Regions from separate parts of the Homo sapiens genome. Here all the other regions are linked to region 1. The links come from fine-mapping of genetic effects on gene expression. A gene starts in region 1. Each other region holds a variant in brackets. All regions are shown on one strand. Distances are from middle to middle.

Region 1 (9,854 bases):
AATCCCAGCTACTGGGGAGACTGAGGCAGGAGAATCGCTTGAACCCAGGAGGCGGAGGTTGCAGTGAGCTGAGATTGCGCCACTGCACGCCAGTCTGGGCAACAAGAGCTAAACTCCGTCTCAAAAAAAGAAAAGAAAAGAAAAATGGACTCTATGCCAGGCTACCAAAAACAAATAAAAACAGAGACTCTCAAGTTCCAAAAAAGCAGAAATTAGACAGGCCACAACCTCTAACTGCAATGTGACAAAATTAGTACAAACATTAAAGAAAAACACTGACTACTTGGAAGTAAAGACACTCATCCTATTTGCCATTAAAAATATATCCATCCACACACAGAAACCAATAGAGCAAAAAAAGAGAAGAAAAATTGGCATGTTTCAAATATATTTATAATAAGCAAATACATATTTTAATTAATGTGGTTTTTTTTTTTTTTTTTTTTTTTTTTTTTTTTTTTTTTTAAAGAAAGACCACTTATGCCGGGTGCAGTGGTTCATGGCTTAGTCCCAGCACTATGGGAGGCCGAGGCAGGAGGATGGCTTGAGCCCAGGAGTTTGAGACAGGTCTGAACAACATAGCAAGACCCCGTCTCTGCAAAAAATACAAAAATGAGTCAGGCCTGGTGGCGTGTGCCTGTGGTCCTAGCTGCTTGGGAGGCTGAGGTGGGAGGATCACCTGAGCCCAGGGAGGTCGAGGCTGCAATAGGCCGTGATCATGCAGCTGTGCTCTAGCCTAGGTGACACAGTGAGACCCTGTCTCAAAAATAAATAAATAAATAAATAAAATTAAAAACACTGCTTAAAGATGATTACATAAATATTTATTTATTTTTTGAGACCAGGTCTCACTCTGTCACCCAGGCTGGAGTGTAGTGGTGCCATCTCAGTCACTGCAACCTCCACTTCTCAGGCTCAAGGGATCCTCCCACCTCAGCCTCCCAAGTAGATGGGGCCACAGGCACACGCCACTATACCTGGCTAATTTTTGTATTTTTAGTAGATGCAGGGTTTCGCCAGGTTGCCCAGGCTGGTCTTGAAGCCCTGGGCTCAAGCAATCCATCCCCTTCGGCCTCACAAAGTGCTGAAACCATAGGCGTGAGCCACTGCGCCCAGGCTACTTAAATATTTATTTAAAAAACAGACTCTCCAAAACAGCATGCAAGAAAAAGAACACTGGCCACCAATTACTAAAGAGTAAGATGTCCCGGCAAAAATAGGTTCTTCATCTTTTACCATGATGAGGATTATCTTTAAGTTTCTTTTTTATATTCTGGTATGAAAATCAGTTTCATGGATTCATGCTTGTCTTGTTCAGCACTGCGGACAGTAGCCCACAGCAGCTACTCAGTCAATATTTATAGAATGACTGTATTAAATATATACACATAAAGAGATTGGCTAAATATTATTGTATCTAAACACAATGGGATATTATATAGACATTTCAAATGATGCAGAAATGTTTTTCACATAGGAAGATTTTTCATAACCTACTCGATAAAGCAAGTTACAAAATAGTGTATAAAGAAGACACATTTTCTCCTTCTTCTCTGTCTAGTTCTGTCTCTCTCATATACAATTTTTTTTTTTTGGAAACGGAGTCTTGCTCTGTCACCCAGGCTGGGGTGCTGTGGTGCCATCTCAGCTCACTGCAACCTCCACCTCCCGGGTTCAAGAGATTCTCCTGCTTCAGCCTCCTGAGTAGCTGGGACCATAGGCACCCGCCACCATGCCCAGCTAATTTTTGTATTTTTAGTAGAGACAGGGTTTCACCATATTGGCCAGGCTGGTCTCAAACTCCTGATCTTGTCATCTGCCCACCTCAGCCTCCCAAAGATTACAGGTGTGAGCCACCGCACCCGGCTGATACACAATTTTTAAAACTCTGTTCATAAGTTTGACAAACAGGAGCTAATGAAAACCACTGCAGTATTCGATGATTATGACACGTCTCCTACTTTACGTTTAAGATGTCGGAAAAGGGCCCGGCGCGGTGGCTCGCACCTGTAACCTCAGCCCTTTGGGAGGCCAAGGCAGGCGGTTCACCTGAGGTCAGGAGTTTGAGACCAGCCCAGCCAACATGGTGAAACCCACCTCTACTAAAAATACAAAAATTAGCCGGGTGTGGTGGTGAGTGCCTGTAATCCCAGCTACTCGGGAGGCTGAGGCAGGAGTATTGTTCGAATCCGTGAGGTGGACGTTGCGGTGAGCCAAGATCATGCCACTGCACTCCAGCCTGGGTGACAAGAGCAAAACTCTGTCACAAAAAAAAAAAAAAAAAAAAAAAGGATGTGGGAAAAGAAAGAAAAAACATTTTTTTCTAATGTCAATTAGTTAATTAATTTTATTTTATTTATTTATTTTTGAGACGGAGTCTCGCCCTGGCGCCCAGGCTGCAGTGCAGTGGCACAATCTCAGTTCACTAAAACCTTCACCTCCCAGGCTCAAGCGATTCTCCTGCCTCAGTTTCTTGAGTAGCTGGGATTACAGATGTCCGCCACCATGCCCAGGCAATATTTCTATTTTTTTGTAGAGACAAGGTTTCACCATGTTGGCCAGGCTGGTCTCGAACTCCTGGCCTCAAGCGATCTGCCCACCCCAGCTTCCAAAGTGCTGGGATTACAGGAGTGAGCCACCGCACCCAACTTGCCAATTAGTTTACTTTTGCTTCAGAGTTGCAGAGGTCATCATCAGCCCCAGTGTCCCTGGTCTCTCATGGATGGTGACCACACAAATTTGTATCATCTGGCCCGTTTCTTCAGCCTATCCCTGGCATGTTCTGGCACGGGTCTATCTCAAGAAGCCATCTGCTTAATATTCAAATCAAAATGAAAACAGCTCAGAGACAGTACACTACTCGGTACCAGTCAGTGTGGACATCCCAAGGGTCTAGTAAGCACTCACGTTTCTCAAAGTTAATGTCATCAAGTTTTAAATTATACAAAACATGCCTGCCACGAAGCAATGAAGTTCCTAGCAAAAGTCACACAATAACTCAGAACTTCAAAGTGAATCCTAGGCCAGGCACGGTGGCTCACGTCTGTAATCCCAGCACTTTGGGAGGAACAGGTGGATCATGAGGTCAGGAGTTCAAGATCAGCCTGGCCAAGATGGTGAAACCCCGCCTCTACTAAAACTACAAAAATTAGCTGGGCATGGTGGCAGGCGCCTGTAATCCCAGCTACTCGGGAGGCTGAGGCAAGAGAATCGCTTGAACCCCAGTGGCAGAGGTTGCTGTGATCTGAGATTAGGCCACTGCACTCCAGCCTGGGCGGCAGAGCGAGACTCCGTCTCAAAAAAAAAAAAAAAAAAAAAAAATGAATCCATGCACATGTATTTTACTTTCAGTCTGAAAACGTATCTAACCTTGCATCACAAAGTAATAACCCCCAGATTGCTGGTCTGTAGTGCAACAGAAGTAAACACTGAAAACACTTAAATATTTCCATCTGGAAACAGTAAATTAAACCTTCTATTTACCTGTGGTGACAGCTTCTCAGTTCTGAGCTTGTCTTGCCACAAACTGTTGAGTCCACAGAGCAGACAGGGCCCTGAGCTTCAGCCTGGCAGTAAGAAGGTGAAGGAGGAAGTGATTACGGTTGTTCTCTGGATGCCCCCCAACTCTTCACCTTGGAAGAGGAAAGTCATGCTGACCCTGCCCCGCAACGACACGGGTGTCGCAGGGTCCTTCCCAGGAAAATCCCGTGTCCTTGCCCTGACCCAGTTCCCCAAGGCACCCTTATCCCAAGGAGGCTGGGAGAGGAGGGGCCTCCCTGGTTTCCTGGCAGGGGTCGGCTGAGGCTGACGTGGGCGTGCAGCCCCGGAGGTCCCACGAAGCCCAGGCCATTGGACAACTGTGGGTTTTTCTTGGAAAGAATCCTGACACTTGGAGCACACTTCCTCTCTTTTAACTTTTAAAAAAGACTTCAGAAAAGCACAGGCGTGCAGTTGTGCCCGGTTGGGGTGCGTGAGGGGGCAGGGCCGACCCTCCTGACTTCCACTGGCACCACCCCGCGCCCCTCCAGCTTCACCCGCACCACGCGGGCCGCGCAGCCCGGGACTCCGGAAAGACCTGGGCGCCCGACCCTCAGCGGCCCCGACCGGGAGCGACGTGGCGCGGCTTCCGCAGAGAAGCCACCCGGCCCAGCGCAGCCTGTCCGGGGTCGCCCCGCCGCGTTGGGGCACAAAGTGGGAACCGTTCCTCAAAGGTGGTCGCAGCTGGAGGAACAAACACGCGCGTCTCCGTCCGACGGCAGAAGCCGGGCGCACCCACCCAGGGTCGGTCTGTCCGGGGCCCGGGTTTCCTCGCCTCGGAGATCCCTGGAGGTCTCGGAAAGCACCTTCTGAGTCGGCGACGCCCCAGCTCCGCTGCGCCGAGGAAAGGGCAAGTCCCGATGTCCCCGCCCGTGGGCCCTCCCTCCGAGGGGACAACCCGAAGACCCAGAGTCGCTGCGGTCCCCAGACCCGACCTCCGCGCAGCGCCAAACCCCAGGGACAGCCGCGGACTCGGGTTCCGGGCAGGCCCCCAGCGCTAGGAGGGAGGCCGAGCTGGGCCCCGAGATCCCTCGCAAGAGTCCTCGGTGTGTGTCCTCGCTCCTCGCCCTCAGGTCCCCAGCCGCGCACCCCGGGCCCCCGGGTCCCCGGGACCCGGAGACCCCGAGACCCCGGGCCCCGCGCATGCGCCGCCCAGCCCCTGCCCCTCCCCCGTCCGCCGCCCTCCGGGTCCCGGGACCTGGGAAGCCCGGACCGCGGACCCCCGCGCGCGTTCCCGCCCGCCCGCCCGCCCGCCCCCGGGCACCTGGGCCGCGGTCCGCCGCCTGCCGGTCCGTGGGGCGAACGCCGAAGGAGGCGGCGCCGGGCAGGGCGCTAGCGGCCGCCTCCGCCCCCGCCGCCCGCTGCCCCCGCCGCGGGGCCGCCGCGTCCACGGCCCATGCCCGGCGCCGCCTCCGCGCGTCCGTGCCAGCCGCGCCCCCGCGACACGCACCGCCCCTCGGCCCGCCCCCTGCCCCGGTCCGCGCGAGCCAGTGTCCCGAGGCCCGACCCGGAAGCCCCGCCCGCCCCGCGCGCCCTCCGGGCCCCGGGCCTCGGCCCCGGGACACACCCCCCGGAGGGCGGCGCCCGATTGGCTGCTCGCGGTGGGCGGGGCCCCGGGAGCGCTCAGCGGCTCCCACCTAGCGCCCCGCGGCCGCTGCAGCCAAGGGAAACTGAGGCCGGAGAGGTGGAGGGACCGTCCAAGGTCACCGATGGGACACCGCTGAGCGTCAGCGCCCCTCCAGCCCGGCGCACCGGGGCGGGGCTGAATTCGAGGCGGGGACGCGCGGCCGCGGGGCGGGTGGAGGTTCCCGCCGGGCGCCCGTGCCACGCTGGCGAGCCCCTCCTGCCTCCTCGATGAGCCCGGCTCTGCTACTCTGTGCGATGAGCCGGTCTAGACCCGGGACCCGGGACCGGGTGCCCTTGAGGCTCAGAAGTGCGTAGGGTGGGAGGCGGCCCGGGAGGGACCTTGTCCCTGGAACCCCAGGATGCAAAATAAGGAGAAGGGGAAGGCGAGCTGGGAGGACAAGGAAACAGGTGGCGGGAGGTGCCAGGGCGGTGTGGTGGGCGGGGGAACGAGGAGGGTGAAGGGCAACGCGGACGGGCTCGGGGAGGCGCCGCCAGCTCCGACCCCACAACCCCACCCCTCTCCAGCGGCCCAAGAGCCATGCCCGCCCCTACTTCATGCGCTGGGGGGTGAGGGGCTGACTTTGTGCCTACGCAAGGCGCTGGGACTCTGCCAGAGCAAGGAGAGGTCGCGGCCCGGTGGCCAATGGCGAGGAGTAGGAGAGCGCCCTGCAAAGCCGCTTTGTTCGGGCCGTGACGCTCGAGCTGCCGGAGCGGAATGCACAAAGCCCCTGGGTGCCGGCACATCAGGGCTCCCCTCCTCGGGAACGCAATGTGTGCTATGCCCGCTCCACTGCCTGCCCTCCGCTGCCAGCTGTGCCTGCCACTGTGCTATTTGTGGCAGCGGGCGCCCAGGAGGACCCACTCCGGAAAGCAAACCCAGATCTCATTAGGCAGGGGAACTGGAGATCAGGCGGGAACTGGCCCTTTCACAAACTTCTCTTAAACTCACCCTTGTTGATTAGCCAGGCACCTATGGTGAACTTTGCCCCACCCTCCAGACACCCACATATCCTTCCCACTGGCACACGGCAACCTCACCTTCTCTTGCACATGTTAGCCAGCAATAGCTATCATTTATGTTGTTTCAGAGTTTATAGGGTGACCTGTACACGTAATATCCTGCATATCTCGTGGGGTGTGCAGGCAGCCACATCCAAGCTTGTCATCCTGTTGTGTTTGGTGAGGGAAGCTGACCCTGGGCTGCCCACGCAGAGCTCAGGGGCTACATCCTCATGAGGACCTCCGGGCTCAAAGACATTACCTGGCATACCCATATCCCAGACTCTCAAGGACCAGGGTCCACACAGGTGTGTGACCCAGATGCACCACCCAGGTCAACCAGGTGTTGAAAGACCTAGTGAACATTCTCATGAACAAGGACAAAGGCTATGTGGGGGTGTGCAGAGTGGTCACGTACACTCAGCAGACATAGGAAAGTGATATTCTTGGGTTTTTTGGGGCTCCCAAGGTTTTAGGGAGAGAAAACTTGTTTTTCATCCATGTGTCCCAGAAATAAGCATTTTCAATCAAATGCTGTCAGCCAGTCTCCCGCAGGCGTCCTGAGGGTAGAAGCAAGTTCAGGACTCTTCTCTTGGGAGTATCCTGGCCAGAAACAGCCCCATATCCATGCTTCCCGGGGGTGGTAGGTTTCTTCTGGGAAACCACGCTCAGATGAGAGAGATGAAGCAATTTTCTGTTGGCCACGAAGACCTTGTCACACACCCAGCATGGGAGCAACTGTCACAAAGGGCACACCCTCACCCCCATTCCCAGCTCCAGGAAGTCTCTCTTTACCTTCTTCAGTGCTGATGAAATGAGGGCCACACGACAGAACAGAAACACCGCTGGCGCAGGGACTGAGTAGAAATCTGTAACTTTGAGGACAAATCAGTGCTCCTGAAAATGTCTCTGAGCACCACCTGAGTTTCCTCTCTGGCGCCTTAGTGACTACTGGGAGCATCTGGTGCATATGGATCTTAGTTCATAGCTACCATTTATGTGGTGACAATGCTGTCTCAGGTCCCTTTTTACATTTTCTGATCCGGAAGATGTTCTGAGGGTAATTATTACTGTGCCCACATTGCAAGATGGAGACTGAGGCACAGAGAAGCCCCATCTGCACTGGGTCCCCCAGGCCAGCGGCAGGGCGCAGGACGGAAGGCAGGTCTGTAAAGCCCACGTCTGCCCTGCTGAGCTGCTCTCTCCTGCAAGTGCTGACCTGCCAGCCAGCCAGAGAAGCCGAGGCTCTCCCACAGCCTCAGGGAAAGAATTGGGAAGCTGGGAATTCAGACGGGAAGGGGTTGCTGGAGGAGGCAACCTGGAGTGATAGGGCTTGGCCGCTCAGTACAGGGCAGCAGTTAGACCCTGAGTGCTGGGAGCAGGTGATGACGGTCATCTGTGTTCAGGGACCCCAGTGCTTTCCCTGACCCTGCCAGGGTGAAGCTTCTCCTATGGGCCTGGGGTCCAGGCTGGAGTCTGTTTGCCAGCCAGGGCCTGCGAAGTTTGCTGCTGGCTTGCCCTCTGCTGATGTGCAAAGCTCTCTGTCAAGGGGGAGTGTGTGCTTCCAGGGTGTCATCCGCCAGGGCAGTGGCCTCTGAGCTCCTGGAAGCGTGCCTGCAGGTCAGGTGGTGGAAGTCCACCGGGGCAGGGGCCGTGGGCTGAGAAAGGGAGGGCTCACTGGCAGCGAGCAGGCGGCTGCTTGGCGACCCAAGGCTGGACCTCGTCGGTGAGGGCCAACCATGGGCATGTCCTTAGTTGCCATCCTGGTACTGACAGCAAAACCCCATGGGTCCAAGGTAACAAAGTATTGTCATACTAGGGGACAGAATCTACAAGAGTCCCACAAGGCAGCTGTGCTTATGCTCATCTTACAGATGAGGAACGAAGGGCCAGGAATGGCAGCATGTGGCCAAGGTCCCCGGCAGGGAGTGAGAACTCTCCCGAGTCCCAGTCCATCAGCACCTGGCCCTGGGTACCCCCGGGGTTCGGTTGTCTGTTGCAGAAGCTGTCTGTTGGCTGATACGGCAGCCTCTGGCAGACTCAGGAGCCCAGGGTCAAGGATCAGATTTCCCTGGTGGCTGCTCCTGGCCCCACAGCTCCAGGGGGGTGGCAGCAGCATGTGCAGAAGCCTGTGGCAGGAGACATTCAAGGGGAGAGAGTGTGGAGATGGCACAAAGCGGGCAGAGCTGGGCAAGGCCCTGGCCAGGCAGGTCTTGCAGCCCAGTGAGGAGTTTAACTTTGGTCCTAAGGGCTGTGGGACACCTGCCATGGAGGGTTGTCAGCAGAGGCATGACTCCATCTGATTAGCACCAAGTGCTGCATGCTACATGTTAACCAGTGGTCACAGCTGAGGTGGTGGGGAGGGGCTTAAGCTGTGCACCCATTCTAGCTTTGCAGGATCTGGAAGCTTCCGCAGGTCCAGAAACTGCTGCTGTCATGACACTGTACCCTTTGAAAATTAACCAGTCCCCAGCTTTGCAGCAGGGCCCATTCGACATGGCTCAGATGTCTGTCTCTGTAGATCTTGAGAAGAACAGGGCAGCCCACCTGCAGCTGCACTGCCTCCCTTCTTTGCCCCTCCAAAGGGACAGGTGTCCACCTCGTCACACAGGATCCAGCTCCAGGGCTAGATCATGGATGTTGTTTATCCAGTCCAGGACATGGACTGGAAGCTGCAGGACCCCTCCCTGTGTCATGCTAGGTGCCGTGGGAGTCTCACTGCAAAGTGTGATGTGTAGATAGACGGATTTTCTTTCTTTACTTTTCTTTTCTTTTTTCTTCTCTTCTCTTCCCTTCCCTTCTCTTCTCTTCTCTTCTCTTCTCTTCTCTTCTCTTCTCTTCTCTTCTCTTCTCTTCTCTTCTCTTCTCTTCTCTTTTTGAGATGGAGTCTTGCTCTGCACTTATGTCCTTGCTGGAGTGCAGTGGTGAGATCTCGGCTCATTGCAACCTCCATCTCCCAGGTTCAAGTGATTCTCCTGACTCATCCTCCTGAGTAGCTGGGATTACAGGCACCTACCACCATACTCGGCTAATTTTTTGTATTTTTCATACAGACAGGGTTTCACCATGTTGACCAGGCTGGTTTCGAACTCCTGACCTCAGGTGATCCGCTCGCCTTGACCTCCTAAAGTGCTGGGATTACAGGCGTGAGCCGCTGCGCCCAACCAGATAGACATATTTGGTCCATAAAGGACAATCTGCTCTGTGTGGAGTTGGATTCTGCAATGATCTGACCCAGTGGTTGGCAGTGAGTGGCACTGCTGCGGCCAGGGAAGACTGCAAGTGCAGAGATGAGGTCTGGCATGACAGCCTGGAAACACACAAGACAGGCAAGCTTACGTGCACAGCACCGTGCCACGTGGGCACTGTCCCCCAACTTTCCCTCATGGAATGAGTGGGTGCCTGGGGTTTGGAGTTCAACAGAATTGGATTCAAATCCTCCTGTACCTTTTCCTCAAACTACAACCTCCAGCCGGTGATGCTATCCGAGCCCCCTCATCTCTAAAATGGGGCAGGGACGCCTTCCTGGATGGGTCCTGGTGTGAGTTTGAGGAGGGAGCACGGGGGTGGTGCAGGGTGGGGCCTGATGAGTGGGTCATATTTGGGACATGGTAACCACCAGCTTGAGGGCTCTGTCAAGAGTTGCCTCCTACAGGAAGCCTGCTTGGCAACCGTCCCCCTGCCAAAGCTGC
Region 2 (9,854 bases), 990 kb after region 1:
CGTCAGCATTTTCTTCTATGCACTTATCAGAAAGATCAAAGACTTTAAAACTTTCACTATTTCTTCTACTGCTATCTACTAAGAACTTCAAAGAGGAACCAGGACTACGGGAGGAGCATGAATGTGGACAAGGAGTGTGACCACTGAAGCACAGCACCACAGGGAGGGGTTCAAGCCTCTGGATGACTACTGGCAAGCCTGGACAATATCCAATCTCCCACAAGAAGGTGGTGGAGCAGAGTGTTCCCTGACTCCTCCAAGTAAAGGAGACTCCCTTTCACGGTCTACTAAGTAACAGGTGCCTTCCCAGGCACTGGCGTTACCACTTGACCAAGGAGCCCTCAAGCGGCCCTTATGCGGGCGTGACAGAGGGCTGGCTCACCTCTTGCCTTCTAGGTCACTTCTCACAATGTCCCTTCAGCACCTGACCCTGTATCTGCCGGTTATTCCTTGGTTATATTAGTAGTACAACAAAGAGTAATATTAAAAGCTAATGACTAGTAATGTTTATACTAATGATTGATAATGCCCGTGATCATCTCTGTATCTAATTTGTATTATGACTATTCTTATTCTAACTATTTTATGTATTATACTGAAACAGTTTGTGCCTTCAGTCTCTTGCCTCGGCACCTGGGTAATCCTTCGCCCACATCCTATAAGTACAGCTGTGTTTTATTCTTTGTTTTTTAGACAGGGTCTCACCCTGTTGCCCAGGCTGGAGTGCAGTGGTGCAATCACAGGTCACAGCAGCCTTGAACTCCTGGGCTCAAGCAAACCTCCCGCCTCAGCTTCCCAAATTGCTGTGACTATAGGCTCATGCCACCATGTTCAGCTAATTAAAACAATTTTTTGGGGGGTTGGGTGCGGTGGTTCTCGCCTGTAATCCCAGCACTTTGGGAGGCCAAGGCGGGTGGATCACTTGAGGTCAGGAGTTTGAGACCAGTCTGACCAACATGGTGAATCCCTGTCTCTACTAAAAATACAAAAATTAGCTGGGTGTGGTGGTGTACACCTGTAATCCCAGCTACTCGGGAGGCTGAGGCAGGAGAATCACTTGAACCCGGGAGATAAAAGTTGCAGTGAGCCGAGGTTGTGCCACCGCACTCCAGCCTGGGCAACAGGGTGAGACTCTGTCTCAAAAAAAAAAAAAAAAAAAAATTTTTTTTATAGAGACCGGGATCTCTCTATGCTGCCCAGTCCTACTGTTTATAAGGGAAAAATGATCAGATTTCCTCAGGGGAGACCATTTTTATTCTGCTGGAAAAGGAACTAGGCCAATCTCAATTCTATTCCTATAAATGCAATTGTTAGGGGTCTCAGGTCTACCATTAAGAAAAGGAAATAAAGCAGGCCTCCAAGAAGCATTAGGGAAACGGAGTACCACAGACCAAGATGGTGATGGTGTACCACTTTCACATCTGGGCAGTGTGCTAAGTTCATGACTACATCACTTAACTCAGCCTTCAGTCATGACTAAAATGGCTTACTGCAAACATGGGTTCAGAATGCTTCAAGTATACGAAACTCAGGAGGAAAAGTGCTTCTACTAAGGAGAATATTTAAGGAGCAGGCACTAGTGGAAAAGCACATCTAAATGTAATTAATACATTTCTACACTAACTAGAGGTCACAGAAATGTAATTAATAAATATCTACACTAAGTACAGGTCATATAATTTCTTGTCATCTCCCATTCATGATGTTCTTAGAAAGGTCTTTTAGTTCTGTCACAAGTCTTCATGAGGAACCCCAAAATGAATGTAAAAGGCAAAAGAAACAGGAAATCATTCTTAGGGAAGCTGCTTTTTACCTCTTCAGCTTCATCTTCTTGATCCCAATTCCTATCTGTCAGTTCCTTCTCGGCATTTCTTTTGGCCATGTTTTCGAACCTAAGTTATAGAAAACAGAAGAGTTTATTTTTCTAGAAGAATAAATTCTTATAAAGAATTTTAAAAATTCACTCTAGCATGAAGTGAGATAAAAACATCTCTGGTTTTTTTATCAGGGAAAAAAAGCATCTGGAAACTGCTTTAATGAGAACTTTACATTGGTGCTGTTAGGCTCCCAGTGTTACAAATCAATAAAGGCTTTTTCCAGGAGGCAGAAGAAGATTCCTAGGGAACACCAGCAGTCCTGAACAACACTAAACCGACTCCATTTGGAAAAATTAAAATGAAATATCAATTGATTTTTTAAAAATCTGGAATCTGAAGTACTGTATATATAATCAAAAAGTCCTTAACTTATTCTACGCATATACATACTGAAAGTCTTGTCATAAAGAAAATAATTTTAATATTTAAAATTCTCTTAAAGATGACCCATTAAAGAAGTGTATCTTTCAGTAAGAATACGAATAACGGGCTGGAAACGCCTCCACAACACGAATACTGTTCTTTAAGCTACAGCCGACAGAGATACATGGTTCCCAAGACTGAACATTTTGTTGCTTCAAATTGTATATTGCCAAGACAATTAGAAGTCCAAAATGATTAACATGGGTGTGTTAGTATTCTGGGAACTTATAACCTTTCAAAAACAAATCATTGGCTTAACTCTTCAATACGATGGCATTAGTGGAAGGGGCAGGAGTTGGGGAACGGCGTGAACTCTGCAGTGGATTCCGGCACCTAACCAAAGAGGGTGCTCCTGTCCATCCCTTAAAATTTACGATTTGTTTTCTGATCTTAATATCATAACAACAAAACAAAGAAAACCCACAACCCAGAGCTCCGCTATGAGTGTTGTGCTGCCTTCTTCACTAACTCTCCAGCTGGACAAAAAACCTTTCCATTTCCCCTGCTACCCACCTCGCCCAAAAACTTACTGATTAGTTTTGGGGACCTGCCAGGTCTTGTTAAACCTGCCTGAACTCCTTCGTGATACTCTCCCCACTCTTGTTTGCTCTCAACACCACAATACACCAGAGTAAGCTTCCTTATTCTGGTGTATTGTGTAATACAGAGTGTATTACAACCCCACAAAGTGGTCGCTAAGATATGAGGTGACATATCACTCTTTAGTATCTAAAAGTAAAATGCAAATGCTGGTATTCCAAAGGCCTCTACAATTTGATGGCCAGTGGAGTAATTACATACGGGCTGTCAGCTTTTAATACATTTTAGTGATTTTTAAATTTTGTAAGTTTATGCTATTTTTCTGATTACAAATGATATTAAAGTCCAAGATTCTAAAATATAAAGGATGAGAAATAAATACACTTTCCATTCGCTGGGAACCCTCTCTTTTTAATGTCCACCCAAAAACACTTGGTTAAGTTTTGCCATTAATCTTTGTCATACAAACAAAAACAAATACAGGAATAGACATAATTCTTTACTGTGCAGAAACCAGGTCTCTGTACGGATTCTTTTTGGCAATTTTCCTACTCATTAACTAATGTCTCCACCAGAGGGTTGGAGAAGTAAGAAGTCACCAACGGTCACGTTTGCTATTTAAGATTAACTGTGGGGCCAGCGAAGTGCCTCACGCCTGTAATCCCAGCACTTTGGGAGGCCAAGGTGGGCAGATCACTTGAGGTCAGGAGTTTGAGACCAGCCTGGCCAACATGGTGAAACCCCGTCTCTACTAAAAATAAAAAAATTAGCTGGGCGTGGTGGTGGCACCTGTAATCCCAGCTACTCCGGAGGCTGAGGCAGGAGAATCTCTTGAACCCAGGAGGTGGAGGTTGCAGTGAGCTGAGATCGCGCCAATGCACTCCAGCCTATGTGACAGAGCAAGACTCCATCTCAAAAAAAAAAAAAAAAAAAAAAGAAAAAGAAAAAAAAATTAGCTGTGGAGAAAAAAGGGATGGAGCTGAATACACAAAAACTGTAATAGTAAAATTGTAACTTCTAACTCATACCCACAATGAAGAGACAGGTGACGCAGTAAAATAGTCTAAATAAATGTAGGGGCTTCCACGTCCTAACATACTCACCAAATCAGTATATAACCAAAACGCAGGGATCTTTGTTTTGTTTACAGATATACTCCAAATGCCCCAACAGTGCCCAGCTCAAACAGCAGGTGTCCTGTCTGTCATTAGATCAGTGAGCTGGGGAAGTATTTCCCCAGTGAGCATAAAGTATTTCAAAAAATACTAAAAGATGCTGGCATCCCAGTTTTGCCATTTTCTAGCTGTGAGAACTTGGGCAAGTTATATTTAATTTTTGTGCCTCAGTTTCTTCATCTGTGGAACAGGAAGTATTAAGAAAGTTAAGATAAACAAAGACTGGCTTAGAACAGTGCCTGGAGCAGAGGAAGGGCTTAATAAATTATTAAAGAAACAAGTTTTATTAGAAGCAAAGGCTATAAACTATCATTTTCCCTCCAAAACGTAAAAGTTGTAGCATGGAAGAAGAATAACTTGGATTACAAACCAGATTTTTACAAATATTTTACCAAATCCCTATTTTATTTCAAAGCATGACACTTCAGACAATACATTTTACTTTTATGCTAGAAGTGGGGGGGAGAAAAAACCCTCTGTAAAATATTCAGAACAAGGCCTGGCACCTGGAGTCTTATGTCTAGCTACTGTTATGAAGAACTTAAGGGAGGCGGAAGGATCTCTTGAAGCCAGGAGTTGGAAACCAACTTGGTCTCTACGAAAATAAAGATGGACATAGATTAGATGAATAGAAATAAAAAATTAGCCGAGCGTAGTGGCGCACGCCTGTGGTCCCAGCTACTTGGAAAGCTGAGGCAGGAGAATCACTTGAGCCCAGGAGCTTCAGGCTACACAGTGAGCTACCACTACACTGAGGCCTGGTGACAAAGCAAGACCCAGTCTCAATCAAACAATCAATAAAAGGGAATTTAAAAAACGTTTGCGTTTGTGGGTAAAAAACCAAATTAGACATGATTTCTAGGTATGAAGCAACGTGGTGGGAGACTGAAAGTCTAGGTAAACTGGAAAAAAACATTATTT[G/C]TGCCTGATATAGTTATGTGGTCTCTGGCATCTGGTGTAGCTCTGCCCTTGGAAAGCTCAACTTGTCAACATCACCTTAAAACGAAAACACAGATTTGGCTACACTTAATAGTGAAGTGCCTTGTTGGAGGAAAACAACAAGGGGGCCAAGTAAGGAGACAGAAATACCTAATCTCCAAGCTGGTTCTTAATGGAACCGAGCAAATGGGTGATGAATAACCCGGGAACGCAGTAAGACAGGCCAGAGAGGTAATGCGCCCAAGAGAAGAGAGACGAGGGGCGGCCAGGGGGAGAGGAAGCTCGAGAGGAATCGCTAGGAAGGAAACGGAGAAGACCACGCCAGGACAGCCCTGCCAGCCCCCTACCTCCGGCGGGGCCGCAGGGGAGAGTCTCACTCGAGTCGGACGCCGCAGCCCGGTGGGGCCCGGGCCCCGCTTCAAAAACAGCCGGGGCTGCGTCGCCGCTGTCATCCCACCCCACCCTCCACCCGTCGCTCCCCCACCGCGCGCCCCGCCCGGCCCGTGCGCCCGACCCAGGCTCCCTCCCTAGAGTCCCGACCTCTAGCCCTGTACCCCACTTCCCAGGGTCCCGTCCTCCAGCCCCTTAAGCCCCTCCCCAGGGTCTGGTCCCCCGGCCCCGCACCCCTCCCCAGGGGCCCGTCCCCCGGCGCTGAACCCGCACCTCCCTCCCCAGGGTCCAGTCCCCAGCCCTGCACTCGCACTCCCCTCCCAGGCCCGAGCCCGCTCCCGCCCTCCCGGCCCTGGGCTCTCAGCACCAGGCTCCCGCCCTCAGCCTCTTCTCCTCCCGCGCCCGCCGCCGCTCCTCACCTCCTCGGCGGCCGCCGCTGCACTCGCTGGGTCTTGGTTGCGGCGAAACCCGGGGCGCAGCGGCGCAGGGGTCTGGAGCCCGCAGGGGTCGCCGGGCTGAGCGCGCTCGGCCGCTTCCGGTGCTGCGCTGCGGAACTCAGAGGACTTAGTGCTCGGCAAGCCCAGAGACTCAAACACCATATCCCTGGGGGGGCTCCTCACGCTGTGTTCGGCAGGGAGGCGAGAGCGCCGGTTCAGCCAGAGACAGCTGGGGGAACCGCGCCGAACACGCTCCGGGCGGCCATTTTGTAACTCGAATCTACCCCCAAAACCAATTCGAAAAAAAGGGAGGAAAGAAACGCCCGCGTTCAGCTACTGCGCAAGCGCGCCGGCGCTTCCGGCAGTAGCACCTCCTTCCGCCGGCCGGGCCCCTTACGCGGCGCATGCGCCCAGCTCCCTGGAAACCGGCGCGGGGCTGAGAATGCCGGTCTCGCGCAAGCGCGCACGCGCCGACCTTGATCTCGTAGCCGGCGCCAGCAGCCGCGCTTTGGGGCGTCGGCTCACGTGGGGCCGGCAACGCGTCTTCCAGGATGTTCGCGCGCTAGTCGCCGCTGAGGGGCCGGCGATGCGCGAGGAGTTCCGGCGAGGAAGGTCGGTCAGTGGACATGGCCGAGGCCCGCGGTGTCCGCGTGTGGGAGCTGCAGGGCTGAGGAGAGGCCGCCCGCAACCCTCGGGAATCGTGTGAGGTGCCACTGGGGTCGCTTCACATCAGGAGGCCCCGTCTCGGGGGACGCGCGCAGGTGACCCTGCTGGTCGTACCTGGCCGGGGTGGCCCGGAGGGGCTGGGTCTCGGCGCCAGGAGGGGCCGTGTGGGCCGCCTGTTAAAGGACCCCTCGTTCGCTGACATTTGATTTTGCATTGGGTGCCTTCTCTTCTGTTTTTTTCAGCCAGTGAGATCCGTCCTGGGCACTCAGCTGTAGAGCAGGGGAACGAGTCCTGCGCTTTTTGCGCTGAGGTCTCCTGGCCCGTAGGCCAGGCAGCCTCTGAGCTCCTTTCTCACCAGCAGCTTGCGATCCCTCATCCCTGGCCCTGTCACTCCCAGCTGTTTCCAGTGCCGCCCTTTTTTTTTTTTTTTTTTTGAGATGGAGAGTTTAACTTGTTCGCCCAGGCTGGAGTGAAGTGGCACGATCTTGGCCTACTGCAACCTCTGCCTCCCGGATTCAAGCGATTCTCCTGCCTCAGCCTCCCGAGTAGTTGGGATTACAGTCGTGCGCCACCACGCCCGGCTAATGTTTATATTTTTAGTAGAGACGGGTTTTCACCATATTGGTCAGGCTGGTCTCGAACTCGTGACCTCAGGTGATTCCCTCCCCCCGCCCCACCACCTCAGCCTCCCAAAGTGCTGGGATTACAGGCCTGAGCCACCGTTCCCGGCCTCGAGCGCCTTCTTATAAACTGGATGGTGGTTTTTGTTTTCACCTTCAAAGTCGAATCTCCCTAGTCCGTTTATTACCAGAAAGAGGTCTCCACTCAGACCCAGCGAGAGGCTTCTTGGATGTCGCGTAGGAAAGAATTCGGGGCGAGTCCACGGACTAAAGTGAAAGCAAGTGTATTAGAGAAGTGAGAAAGCAAAAGAATGGCAGAGCAGGGCATTCCTGAAAGCGGGAGGAGGAAGGCGCCCGCCTTAGGTACAGTGCTTGTTCAAATCTAAGGTAACACAGCCAAAGAAATCTTGGGGGACATGGGCTCTACCACGAGGGCCCACGACCAAGGTTTCATGCGCGTCCGTGTGAAGAGACCACCAAACAGGATTTGTGTGAGCAACATGGCTGTTTATTTCACCTGGGTGCAGGCGGGCTGAGTCCAAAAAGACAGTCAGCGAAGGGAGATAGGGGTGGGGCCGTTTTATAGGATTTGGGAAGGTAATGGAAAATTACAGTCAAAGGGGGTTGTTCTCTGGTGGGCAGGGGTGGGGGGTCACAAGGTGCTCAGTGGGGGAGCTTCTGAGCCAGGAGAAGGAAATTCACAGGGTTAATCACTTAGTTAAGGTTGGGCAGGAACAAATCACGATGGTGGAATGTCATCAGTTAAGGTGGGGCAGGGCCTTTTCACTTCTTTTGTGATTCTTCAGTTACTTCAGGCCATCTGGGCGTATACGTACAAGTCACAGGGGATGCGATGGCTTGGCTTGGGCTCAGAGGCCTGACACAAGGATTGTTCATCTTTGTTTACTGACTTTGGCAAAGATCTATATTATCTTTAAAGCGAAACCTAAATGAAGAATGCTTTTGATCTTAAGATATTGTTAGGTTTTGAAGGGAAGACGAGAGTTAAAGAATGACACACAGGTCGGGCGCTGTGGCTCACGCCTGTAATCCCAGCACTTTGGGAGGCCGAGGCGGGTGCATCACCTGAGGTCAGGAGTGGGAGACCAGCCCGACCAACATGGTGAAACCTCATCTCTACTAAAAATACAAAAATTAGCGGGGCGTGGTGGCACATGCCTGTAATCTCAGCTACTTGGGAGGCTGAAGCAGGAGAATCACTTGAACCCGCGAGGCAGAGGTTGCAGCGAGCCAAAATCACGCCATTGCACTCCAGGCTGGGTAATACAGTGAGACTGCGTCTCAAAAAAAAAAAAAAAAAAAAAAAAAAACAAAGGGCAGCTCAACAGCAACACAGGTATATGGCAAAAACCTACAGAGATGGGGGATCAGCTTAATGCCAGAGCCCACTGCTGCTTACAGGCTGGGGTACTTATAGGGCAGGAGGGGAATGGGCAGTATGGCTTGCCATGTGAATATACTTACCAGTATATCTATCCATAAAACGTTCTATGATCAGGCAGTTTGGCCCTTGTTCCCTCAGAAAGTGACAGTGATGTTCCTTGCACCTTTGCTGAGCAAGGTTTGATAGGGATGTTCCTTCAATTGGGCCTTTACCCAACAGGGTTTGGTAAGAAAGTTGGGCAGGAAATTTCTCACGGCCTGAACCCCCGTGGAATGTTTCGCTTTGACCAGTGTCTGCGAAATGGCGGGGGGCTTAGAAAATGGTGCAGTTTGGCAGGGCGTGGTGGCTCACGCCTGTAATCCCAGCACTTTGGGAGGCTGAGGCGGGTGGATCACAAGGTCAAGAGATCGAGACCATCCTGGCCAACATGGTGAAACCCTATCTCTACTAAAAATACAAAAAATTAGCCGGGCGTGGTAGCGGGTGCCTGTAGTCCCAGCTACTCAGGAGGCTGAGGCAGGAGAATGGCGTGAACCCAGGAGGCGGAGCTTGCAGTGAGCTGAGATTGCCCCACTGCACTCCCGCCTGGGCAACAGAGCGAGACTCCATCTCAAAAAAAAAAAAAAAAGAAAGAAAGAAAATGGTGCAGTTTGGACTAACAGATACAGCGACATCAAAATGTTTCCTGGGTCTGTTAAGTCCTGGGTTTGTTTAGTGAACGTTATTAATCTGTTCCTGTAACCCTAAACATCTTGTGACTACTAAGAATGCAGCCAACAGGTCTCTGCCTGATTTTACCTACTGCCTCTTCAAGATGGAATTGCTCTGGTTCCAATGCCTCTGACAAACTGGCTGCTTGATCTCTAGGTTGTGACCATGTCAGGGATAGAGGCAGCTTAGGTAGAGGTAGACTTTCTTGTACTCAACATTGAATTGTGGCTTAGTTAAAATCAGAACTTTCATTCTTGGAATAATACAGTATTGTAAGGGTAAGCCAAATGATTAACACATTTACTTAATTACACATTGTAGCATTGAAATAACTGATGCCTTTCTAATGCAAATAAAAAAGATTTATGTATATGATAGCACTGTAGCTGTCTTGCGCCTTACTGGATGGATTTCATTGCTGGCTAAAATGACAACTTTAAACTGGCTATAACTCAGAAGAATGGAGGCACTTTGCACGCAGACATCTACCTCCATTGAATTTGGCTACTTCCTTTTAATGAAGCTCAAGTCTCATGTTATGAAATACTCCTCCAAAGGTGTTAGCCCTTTTTTCCTATACTCTGCCTTTCAAAAATCCCTTTCAATTTGCTTAACCCCTGAGAGCCAAAGGACTGTGATGGTTGTTAGGCTGGGTCATTGTCATCATGTTC
Region 3 (9,854 bases), 95 kb before region 1:
CCCTCAGCTATCCGGGAGCCTCGCGCCGGCGACCTCGACCCTGTCGAACCCGGCGGAACACTCAGAAAGAAGCTGAGCGCCTCGCAGCGGCCAGGACAGCGGGCCAGGCCCGCGCGCTCCCGCAGCGCACGGCCAGACGCGACGCCCCTCAGCACGGAACCCAGCCTCGCGGACTACCCCGAAGCTCAGAGCCACATCCCGCGCAGAGGACCGCGGCGACCGGAAAAGCAAGGCAGAGGCGGAAAACCACCGCGAGGTCCCGCCTCCCGCTCCGCGCCTGCGTCTGCGGCTGCACCGGGGTTGGCCGGGCCGCGGTGGGGCGGGGCCGCTCAGGCGCCTTGGACGCGGAGCCGTGGGACGAGGGCGGCGGTGAGTTCGAGGTGGCAGAGTGACTGGGGCGAGCGTGCTGTGGCCCTTCCCTGCGCTGCCTCAGGGTGCCTCCCGCTCGCCGGGACTGAGTTCCGCGCCGGCGTGGCCTGCTGGGTTCCAAGCGCCAGGAGTCGGCGCAGCCGCTCTCAGCTTTGGGGACGGGACCGAGAAGCGGGGTGTGGGCCTCACGGGACTGTCCCCCCTGACCTCGGGCAGCGCTGGGGCGAGAGAGGGCAGGCGGAGGCTCGCGGGGACCACCAGCATCCCCGGACCCTCTCAGCCGTCCCTGTTCACAGGCACCGCCCCCAGGAGCCTCGGCAGGGGCCTAGGACGCCCCGGCGTGCAGAAGAGAAGCGGGATCAGGTTCACGCACACCCGCGATCGATCGTAACTTTTGTTTTGAGACAGAGTCTCGCTCTGTCGCCCAGGCTGGAATGCAGTGGCGCGATCTCGGCTCACCGCAACCTCCGCCCCCCCAGCCCCCGCTCCCCAACCCCCCGCTCAAGCGATTCTCCTACCTCAGTCTCCTGAGTAGATGAGATTAGAGGCGCCCGCCCCCACGCCCGGCTAATATTTTATTTTATTTAATTTTAATTTTTATTTTTTTGAGAAGGAGTCTCGCCCTGTCGCCCAGGCTGGAGTACAGTGGCACAATCTCGGCTCACTGCAATCTCCGCCTCCTAGGTTCAAGTGATTCCCCTGCCTCAGCTTCCTAAGTAGCTGGGATTACAGGCACCCGCCACTATGCTCGGCTAATTTTTGTACTTTTAGTAGAGATGGGGTTTCGCCATGTTGGCTAGGTTGGTCTTGAACTCCTGACCTCAGGTAATCCGCCCGCCTCTGGCTACCAGAGTGCTGGGATTACAGGTATGAGCAACCACACCGGGCCAGACTTAACTTTTAAAGTCACTGGTAACCCATGCTTCCTGGAGTTGCATCTGGGGACACCCAGTGGGGAAAGCCATCGCATTTGATACGCCTTTATACACCACGCTCAGTTCAGGCGAGGGGAGGTCACAGCCAAGAGCTAGGGGCCAGCTGATAATGTCGTACTTGATTCCATAGTCAAAGAAGGAGCTGGGTAATCAGCAAAATTGTAACTTTTGATGAACCCATCAGATGGCAGCCATTTAGCCAGAAATCTAAGGAAAGAGAGGCCTCCAAGACCCAACCATGAACATGAGAAGGGGGTTCCATACAAGCAGATAAGAAAACAGTTTTTTTGTTTGTTTGTTTTTTGAGATGGAGTCTCGCTGTCTCCCAGGCTGGAGTGCAGTGACGCGATCTCGGCTCACTGCAAGCTCCGTCTCCTGGGTTCACGCCATTCTCCTGCCTCAGACTCCCATGTAGCTGAGACTATAGGCGCCCGCCACCACGCCTGGCTAATTTTTTGTATTTTTAGTAGAGGCGGGGTTTCACCATGTTAGCTAGATGGTCTCGATCTCCTGACCTCGTGATCCGCCTGCCTTGGCCTCCCAAAGTGCTGGGATTACAGGCATGAGCCACTGCGCCTGGCCAAGAAAACAGTTCTAATGTCCACACCACGTGTGGACTAATGTGAGGGCATAGAGCTTCTAGGAGCAGCAGAAACAGGAGATTTTGCACCCACTCTGGGCCCTTCTCCACCAGCGTTCACTGGGGGCTTGTGGTAAAGAATGGGGCAGAGCAGGAGACCGGAACGCTTTTACCGTGGTGCAGACCTGGAAGAAGAGATGGGTGCTCTGGCTTGATCCTGTCTGGATCCTTCTCTCTAGCAGTACAAAAACCTTAAACCATTGGAATATGGACAGCAAATCCTGTCACTCTGGGCACCGGTGAAAACCTGTTTCAGCTGGGGATAGAGAAAAGGGTACGGTAGGGAGGCAAGAAACTGTGCTAGGACTATATGGTTAGGGTCTTCATAGCTGGGAAAGGGGCAGGATTCCTGAGAAAGCCTGTGACCCAGGGACACCCCATCTCTTGATCTTGCAGATGGCGTCCCATGTAGAGTGCCGTCCTCTGGGAGTGTTTGAGTGTGAACTCTGTACCTTGACAGCTCCGTACAGCTATGTGGGACAGAAGCCCCCCAACACCCAGTCGATGGTGTGAGTGCATGCCTTTTGGGCCAGTGCCGGGGAGGCCTGTGCCCAGTGCTGGTTGGTGGGTGGTGTGCCTAGGTCTGACAACTGTCTCAGGTGTGGAGCTTTAGACCCCACCCTGGCCAGGCTCTGAATGCTTCTGGTGTAATCTCTGGAGGCCTGGGCAAGGCTTGAGGTCTGACTCTTCCAGAACCTTCCTCCACACCTAGCCCAGAGTCCAATACCTGCTCTAGCTGTGGGGGAGCAGCTCAGCAGCTGGGGGACCTGTGGTGGCCTCCCCCTTTGGGGCTGCACCCTTGCCATGACACTTTCTTAATGGGAGGCCTGTCTCCCCTGCAGACCTGGATTAGAGCCAGTGGGTCAGGGGGCTTATCTCTTGACCTCCAGCTTGTCCTTCATCAAATGCCACTTTGTTGGAAAGCTGGCCGGTGTGTTACTCACATGGGATGCAGTGGCAGGGGCATGGCTTTTTCCTTCTGGCTGTCGTCCCTCTGCTGACCAGGAGCCTGAGTGTCATCATGTCACCCTGGGGTCTCATTCTGATGTGTAGCATGAGGCCAGCTGGCTTCCAGGGGCTGTGAGGGTGTGGCTTGGGGTGTAGGGAGGCCTGGGGTATTCAGGTGGCAGCCTTGTGCCCCCACTGTGGTGAATCAGTCAGGGTCTGGGGGCCCATGTTGCAGCAGCCCTGCTTTTGGCTGAGAACAAGGGGTTCTCTCTACCATGGCTGTTACAGAGGTGAGAGCAGGTTCAATTTCAGTGCCAGTGTGGCCCCCAATTGCTGATCCTTTCTGTCACTGCCCTGCAGCACGGGTGGCCTAGTCCCCTGCCCTGATGAGCCCACGCAGGTATGCAGGCCCTGCAGAGGTGCAGGCTGCTGCTGCCTGGCCATAGGTCATGGCTGATTTTCCGACGGCAGAGATTTGGGCTGTTCTGACGCTGCATTCACTCTCCTGCAGCCTCCTGGAGGAAAGCTATGTCATGAAGGATCCCTTCACCTCCGACAAGGACAGATTCCTGGTCCTCGGCTCGTGCTGCAGTTTGTGCAGCAGGCTGGTGTGTGTGGGCCCGGTGGGTAAGCAGCGTGGGCTGGGGCCACCTGTCCTTGCTGTGGTTATCCTGGAGCTCTCCCTGGGTAGGGAGGGCTGGGAGAGAGGGAGCAGCGGGTTCACCCCATTATAGATGGGGCCCCTCAGCTGATGAAGGGGAGAGGTGAGAGGGCAAGCTAGGGTCAGTTAGAGGGTCTCAGCCTGGTGTAGGAATGGAAATAGGTAATTGGTGGCTCTGCACCCACCCCAGTGGCCCCTCAGGGTTCCTCCCCTTCCCACCAACAGTGCAGACAGTCCTTGTGCGCCCTCTCACCAGGATGGTGACTTACTTTCTAGATGTTCTTGGAGGGATCTCCAGGAGAAGGGACTGTCCTTTCATGAGCACTTGTTGTGTGCCAGGTCCTGTGCTTGGGACCTGTTTTACTGCTGAGGCTTCATTCAGTCCTGCCCCTTAGTCAGGTAAAGCAGTATTATATTCCACCCATTTTATAGATGAGGGAACTGAGCTTCAGAGAGGCTGGGTGGGCCAGGTTCACCTGGGTAGCTGTAAACCCAAGGACGGATGGAAGTGGAGCAGCATGGCTTTCACAGCGTGCCCAGTGTACTCAGAGTGACCCCAGAGTCTGAGAAGTCCCTGAGCATCTGCCACAGGTTGACACACACAAAGGGGAGCTGTATCAATAGCCAGGGGGACGAGATGGGCCAGGGTGGGAGGAGCCTCCGCAGTGTGGCATGGGAGTATCTGAGGCTCATGGAGGAGCTGGTGGTCCAGGAGAAGCTGGGAAAGGAAGACTGCAAAGGTGGGTGGGCCAGGTGGGGAGGTGGAGGTCTTGAATGCAACACCTTGGCCTTGGGCTGCTCTTCGTGAGCAGCGGGGTGGCGGGGGTGGGGGGCGCACGCAGGTACCACAAGTCTGCAGCTTTCTTTGTTTAAACAGTAGGTTGTTAGTGAGCGGATCTCCATGGCGAAGGGTCTTTTCTAAGAACTGCAGGAGGGCAGCCTTATGTTTGCGAGCACACTAAGCTTTAAGAACAGACAGACACCAAA[A/G]ATAAGAGTGGCCTAAGTAAAGCAAATAGTTATTTACTTACTTTCTCCTATGTAAGAGTCCAGAACTGGTGGCCTTGGCTGGAAGGGCACCCCTGTTGTCTTCAGCAGAGTCTCTATTTGGGTCCCTTGTGGCTGTGGAGCTCCCACCATCATATTTGCATCCCAGGCAGCGGGAAGGGACGTGAGAGCACAGTCCATGCCTTCAAAGGGCATGACCAGGAGGTGGCACACACAGTTGCTGACGCCCCTAACCAGCCTGAGTCACATGGCGATGCCCAGTTACAGAGGGGGCTGGGGAATGTCATCCTTAGCCACGTGCTGTGCACCGTGATGAATCTCGGGAGTTCTAGTGTGTAAGAGAGAGGAGAGCGGACATGGCTGCACGGTTCTGGCCTCCTGCCCAGACTAGCTGGCTCGTCCATGGCGTCTTTGGTCTGTGGGGCTGTCCTTCCTGTCCCCTGCCGCTCCCAGCACCAGGTGGCCACTGTTCGTGCTGCGATAGCTGGGACGGGAGGACTCTGGGATTTTCGGGGCATGGCCTGTGCTCCAGCTTTCCATTGTTGTCACTGCCCCGTGATGGAGCAGAGCAGGCCCCAGAGTCTTTCTGTCCCATCCCAGCTGTTCCCACCCAGGGTAGCCCAGGCCTGCATTGCTTTTCTCCTGGACACCCTGCCAGGCCCTCAGGCCTGGCTCTCCCTCTTGCTGGTCTAGCTCTGGCCACCTGCCCACACTGTGCATGCTGGGGCCCCAGCCCAGCCCCCCAAGTGTGGGAAGGGCTGGCCCCTGGGAGGAGCTGCACCATGTTCCCAGGATACTCAAGCCTCCATCCTTGTCCACTTCTTTAAGGAATGCAGTTTATTCTACTCCAAGAGATTCTGCCTCCCTTGTGTCCGGGAGAACATCAATGCTTTTCCTCAGGAAATTCGGCAAGACTTGGAGAAAAGGAAAGCTCCATCAAAGAGGACCCCCAGCCAGCCCGGTTCTCGGACGTGAGTGCAACTGGGGCTAGGTCATCGGGCGGCACCCTGCACAGAGCTCCTGGGCCAGCCTGCGCCAGGGATGCTGCTGAGCTGGGAGCCGCCATGCCTGGCCTTGTTTCTGGACCACTGGGAGCAGCACTGCAGCCCAGGGGAGCTGGAGTCCAGCTTGGAGCAGCCACAGGCCCAGGGAGCTGTAGCAAGAGGGTAGTCCAAAGGCAGATGCCAGACAAGACACAGCCAGGAACCCGGCCAGGTCCCCCCACATGCCCCTCAGGGCCCAGGCCTGAGTGAGTGCTGCTCAGATGTGACTGAGAGGGATGACCTCCTTCAGCAGGGCAGCTCCTAAGAGGCTGCGTGCAGGTGCGTGTGGGGGGAGATGCCACACTGTGTCGGGGCCATGGTGCACTGTAGGTGGCTGCAATGGTCTCTCTGTAAGGAAAATCACTGACAGCAGCTCCTTCTGGACCCAGTCTGGAAGGTCTAGAGGGGGATAGAATTTTTATTTCATATCCTTATGTGGTGCTTGGAAAATGTTTTTAACCTTGACCATGTATTATGTTTATAATTAAAAACCCAAAGAACCAGCTCATGTTTGGAAAAGGAATCTTCCACTGAAACATTTGGATACCCGACGTTCTCCCTGGACACTTGGCCCGGCAATAGTTGGGGTCTCCTGGGAAGCTGAGTGCTGGCTTCTAGCCTCTCCAGTTCCCTCAGACTCTGTCTTCAGCTCGGGCCCCTCCGTTCTGTCTCCCTCGACTCCAAGTCAGGAATACCGTGGGCTTCCTGCCCTCACCCCACACCTCAAGACCATCCCACTGCTTGCCTGCTTGCCCCCTGCCATCTCGCACTCAGCCCTGGGTGCCTGTGAAGCCTGGCCCCACTGCCTGCCGGGGGTTCCTGCAGCACCCCCCTACTCCAGGCTCCCCATCTCCCTGAAGCTTCCAGGGTAGCAGCTGGTGGGACACTGATCTGTGAGCTCTGGAATGTCTGCTTAGAATTCTGAGAGGCAGGAACTGCTCTGTCTTTGTAACTACTCAAGGCCAACTGTCACATGAAGGAATGAATAAAGAGTTTTTACTGACTTGTGCACTGATGGACTTTAAGATGCTCACTGCTTTAAAAGTTCCCGTTGTATGTGACTTCAGACGAAAGGATGTCGTATTCCGGAGCCAGATTGTCCTTGATCCATTCTGTATGTTGAAGGACACAAAAGGGACTGTGCAGGTGGAGACAGCCTCCATGAGGGGCGCAGGGACTGTTCTGGCGGAGGGCGGACCCCACAGCTGGGGACTTGGTTCTTTTAGACCAAACAGTCCATCTCGCAGCATCACTCAAAACTCACCAAAAAATTTTAAAAAATAGTTTATTTTTTAAAACCATTAAGGCAAAACTGTACCCTGAAATTAACTCTGTACATTCATCAGTCTTACAGTAGGACATCCCAAACACAGAAGTTCCCATATATTCAGGATATAAATCAATACATGTGGTCAGTTCAGTCTCCTAATAGGAAAACGAAGACCCAAGATTTTTTTTTAAAATTAAGGTTATTTTATAGCCATTTTCTAATTGCCTGGAACCAATCAGTTCATGTGACTAGAAAAATTACTTTCGCTCTTCTCTGCACATCCTTGATTCCGGAGGTCCTGGATGCCCGCTCCCCCCACCAGGAGAGAGGTATGAAGTTGGAGAGAGGATGCTGGGGCCTGTGTGGCAGTTCCTACTTTGGAACTGCACCTTTTTAGCACAAATAAGAAGCTGTAAGCCCCAAAATACTGAGAGTATAAGGCACTCACTAGTAGAGCACATGTGGAGAGTCTGGGCCCAGTCCTTGCTCTGGGATCTGCCTCATTCTCGCGTGTGTTTCTGTCAACCCTCTCTCTTAGGGTTTTAGCCTAATGGCATTATGAATCCCAGAGGGTGTAACCAATATGCACCAAGAAGTTTTGCCAAGTTATTGGAAACAAGGTATGGGGAGACTCACGGGGTCTGTGGTTTCTGCTTTCTGCTTTGGGTTGGGCCACCTGGAGGATGCCAGAGAACCGGCACGTGCAAAGAATTTCCATCAGGACATTTCCAATTGCCAGCGTTCTTTGGTAATAACCCATAGGTAACAGTTCCCTGAAGAGCAGACAGCTATTTACTAAACAAGAATAGTGAAGGGTCTTTAGCGAAACACTGTTGTATGAAATCGGTGGCCTCTAATACGGAGTCTAAGGCCTCGCTGGTGGAAGTGACTAGAGATAGCCTCTCTTGTGCTCTGTGCATATACAGTGTGGTAAAGGGAACAGATTTCCACATTGAAAGTAAATTCTGCATGGCTCAGGAGAAATGAAGAGCTGTGTGTGTGTGTGTGTGTGTGTGTGTGTGCACGCACACGTGTACGCAGTGTATTTTAGATGTTTGATTTCAGCTTCCTTTGTGTTTCCAATAGGGTCAAGAGCCAGGCTTTTAAGAATATGAGTCAATTAACACTGATTTCAAAAGAATCCAAATGTTTCTTATTAAATGAGTGATTGTAAGTTAGTAAAATATTTGTATTAGGATATTTTTCAAAAAGTCAAATCACAGTATTTAAGATATAGCTATTAACGTAGTTCTTTTTACCACACAATGTAGAAAAAAGTGATATTTAACATGAACACTGTAACTTTACCAAAAAGAGTACTACATGGTCTTCATCTTTTGTGAGGTACATGAGAAAAGGAACTGACTGTGCCTTAAAAAAAGTGAAGTTGCCAAAAGTGAGTGATTTTATTGTGAAATGATCGGCCAGTCACTCGTCTCCGGGGCCTGAAGGCTGACCCTCTCTGACTTGAGGCACAGCCAAGGCCTGGGGGTCCGGGGAAGGTGCCCGACTGTGTCCCAGGGCTGCGGCATGCCCCCCCACGCCCGGTCACCACTTTTCCTAGGAGCCAGGCTGCGTGGACTGGGGGCCTGTTTGTGCACCAGTTTGCACGGCACTTTATCAATTCATTAAATGAATGGATTTTGGATGCTGGATGTGTGGGCAGAAGAGGGGCAAGAGAAGAGGTGGCAGGTAGACTCCCTCCTCCTCACATTTGACCCAACTAGCAAACTTAAAAAAAATAAAATAAAATAAAAGCTGACCCCCCTCCCCAGGTCTTAGTTTGCTATCTCTGATGTAAAAATCAATTATTTTTTCTCTCTTTTTTTTTTTTTTTTTTCAAATAATCCATCTAACAGCCATGAGACCACTCAAGTATTTGAGGTCATCAGCTGCGTCCATCAAGACATGATATTGAACATGGACACCATCTGGTCTGTTGGTCTGTTTTTGTTGGCAAAGGACTCCAAAAGGATGCAGTTGTATGTGTTTCAGCTGAACCACATACCATAGCTCCTCTCCCCTCACAAAAGGGTTTCTCTGGGGGGAGAAAAGTAACTGATTATACCTCTCATGTCTCAAACTGAAATTCTGAGAAGCAAATGGTCAGTTGAGGGCCCCATTCCAGATCTGCCGGGACGTCCTCAGATGTCCAGAGCTGGCAAAAGGTGGAGCAGGCAGCAGCCTTGGGCACCAGCCTGTCTCTTTCTGTTCTGATAAGGCCACACACATGGCTTTTTGTGATAAGCTTCCAGCCCATGCCACTGAAATAACGTTTAAGAACCTGCTGCATTTCACAGAAATAGCGTAATGGAAATCATTATGTAATTAAACAAAGCATGAAGCTCATTATCTTTTTCTTTTTAACAAAACCTTCAATTTCACATTTTAGTGTACACTGTGGTTTCCAGAGAAATATATGGATCTCCTATATTCTGAGTCAGACCAAATTTATTGCCTTTATTCTTACCCTAGTCTATGGGGTCAATAACCGTTTTCCTGAATGCTGTCAAAATGGTGCCTGAAAATATCTAAATCCCAGCAAAAACCTAGGCCTCAACTTTGGAACCCAGTCATAGATCTTTCTAGGCAGAAGGCCTCTCAGGGGAGTACATGCCCTGGGCAAAGGCCATGGACTCGGAAGCAGGAAGGTCACGGGATGATTTAATGGCATCGAATAATCCTTTGGTGAGATGGCCTTTGTTGCCCTCAGCACAGTCGAGGCAGGTTAATCATTTATTTGCCACAACCCTTCCTTGCTCTGTAAAGCTGCAGCACAACTGGGTGGTCCGTATAGCCTTTTCTGCCACAGATGTTTGTGGACATTTCACTTCCAGACTGTGACGTCTGAAGATGGGCTTGAATGACAGCAGCCATCATCGCTGCCATTAGGGAGGTGCACACAGCCCCCTTTGCTCGATGCAAATATTTGGTTGGTAAGAAATTCCAGTGCAGCTAAACAAGTCAGCTTGGACTGAGTTAA

Alleles and levels. Alleles are on the strand shown, and positions count from the first base shown. SD is a standard deviation of normalised expression in the study named. Not every link is listed here.
With allele C in place of G in region 2, the expression in left ventricle of the gene that starts at base 4,928 in region 1 is lower (small effect, 0.28 SD a copy in GTEx).

Evidence for each region.
Region 2: its variant is fine-mapped to the expression of PPARA in left ventricle (GTEx, PIP above 0.99).
Region 3: its variant is fine-mapped to the expression of PPARA in lung (TOPMed, PIP above 0.99).

What each region holds. Positions count from the first base shown.
Region 1 is chr22:46,145,600-46,155,453 of GRCh38, reverse strand. It overlaps PPARA (peroxisome proliferator activated receptor alpha), which reads right to left and starts at 4,928. Exons shown (of 9, transcript NM_005036.6): 1 at 4,802-4,928; 2 at 3,484-3,566. RefSeq lists an enhancer at 4,188-4,377 and silencers at 4,588-4,707, 4,858-5,467.
Region 2 is chr22:45,160,206-45,170,059 of GRCh38, reverse strand. It overlaps NUP50 (nucleoporin 50), which reads right to left and starts at 6,135. Exons shown (of 8, transcript NM_007172.4): 1 at 5,764-6,135; 2 at 1,814-1,892. The coding sequence starts at 1,882. It overlaps NUP50-DT (NUP50 divergent transcript), which reads left to right and starts at 6,279. Exons shown (of 3, transcript NR_038956.1): 1 at 6,279-6,483. RefSeq lists silencers at 5,364-5,543, 5,574-5,803, 6,574-6,623 and an enhancer at 5,684-6,206. The variant G/C (reference allele first, on the strand shown) is at 4,937.
Region 3 is chr22:46,240,771-46,250,624 of GRCh38, reverse strand. It overlaps PPARA (peroxisome proliferator activated receptor alpha), which reads right to left. Exons shown (of 9, transcript NM_005036.6): 9 at 6,870-9,854. It overlaps CDPF1 (cysteine rich DPF motif domain containing 1), which reads left to right and starts at 332. Exons shown (of 4, transcript NM_207327.5): 1 at 332-369; 2 at 2,341-2,453; 3 at 3,404-3,515; 4 at 5,387-6,612. The coding sequence starts at 2,341. The coding sequence ends at 5,533. RefSeq lists silencers at 144-473, 584-753 and an enhancer at 42-549. The variant A/G (reference allele first, on the strand shown) is at 4,541.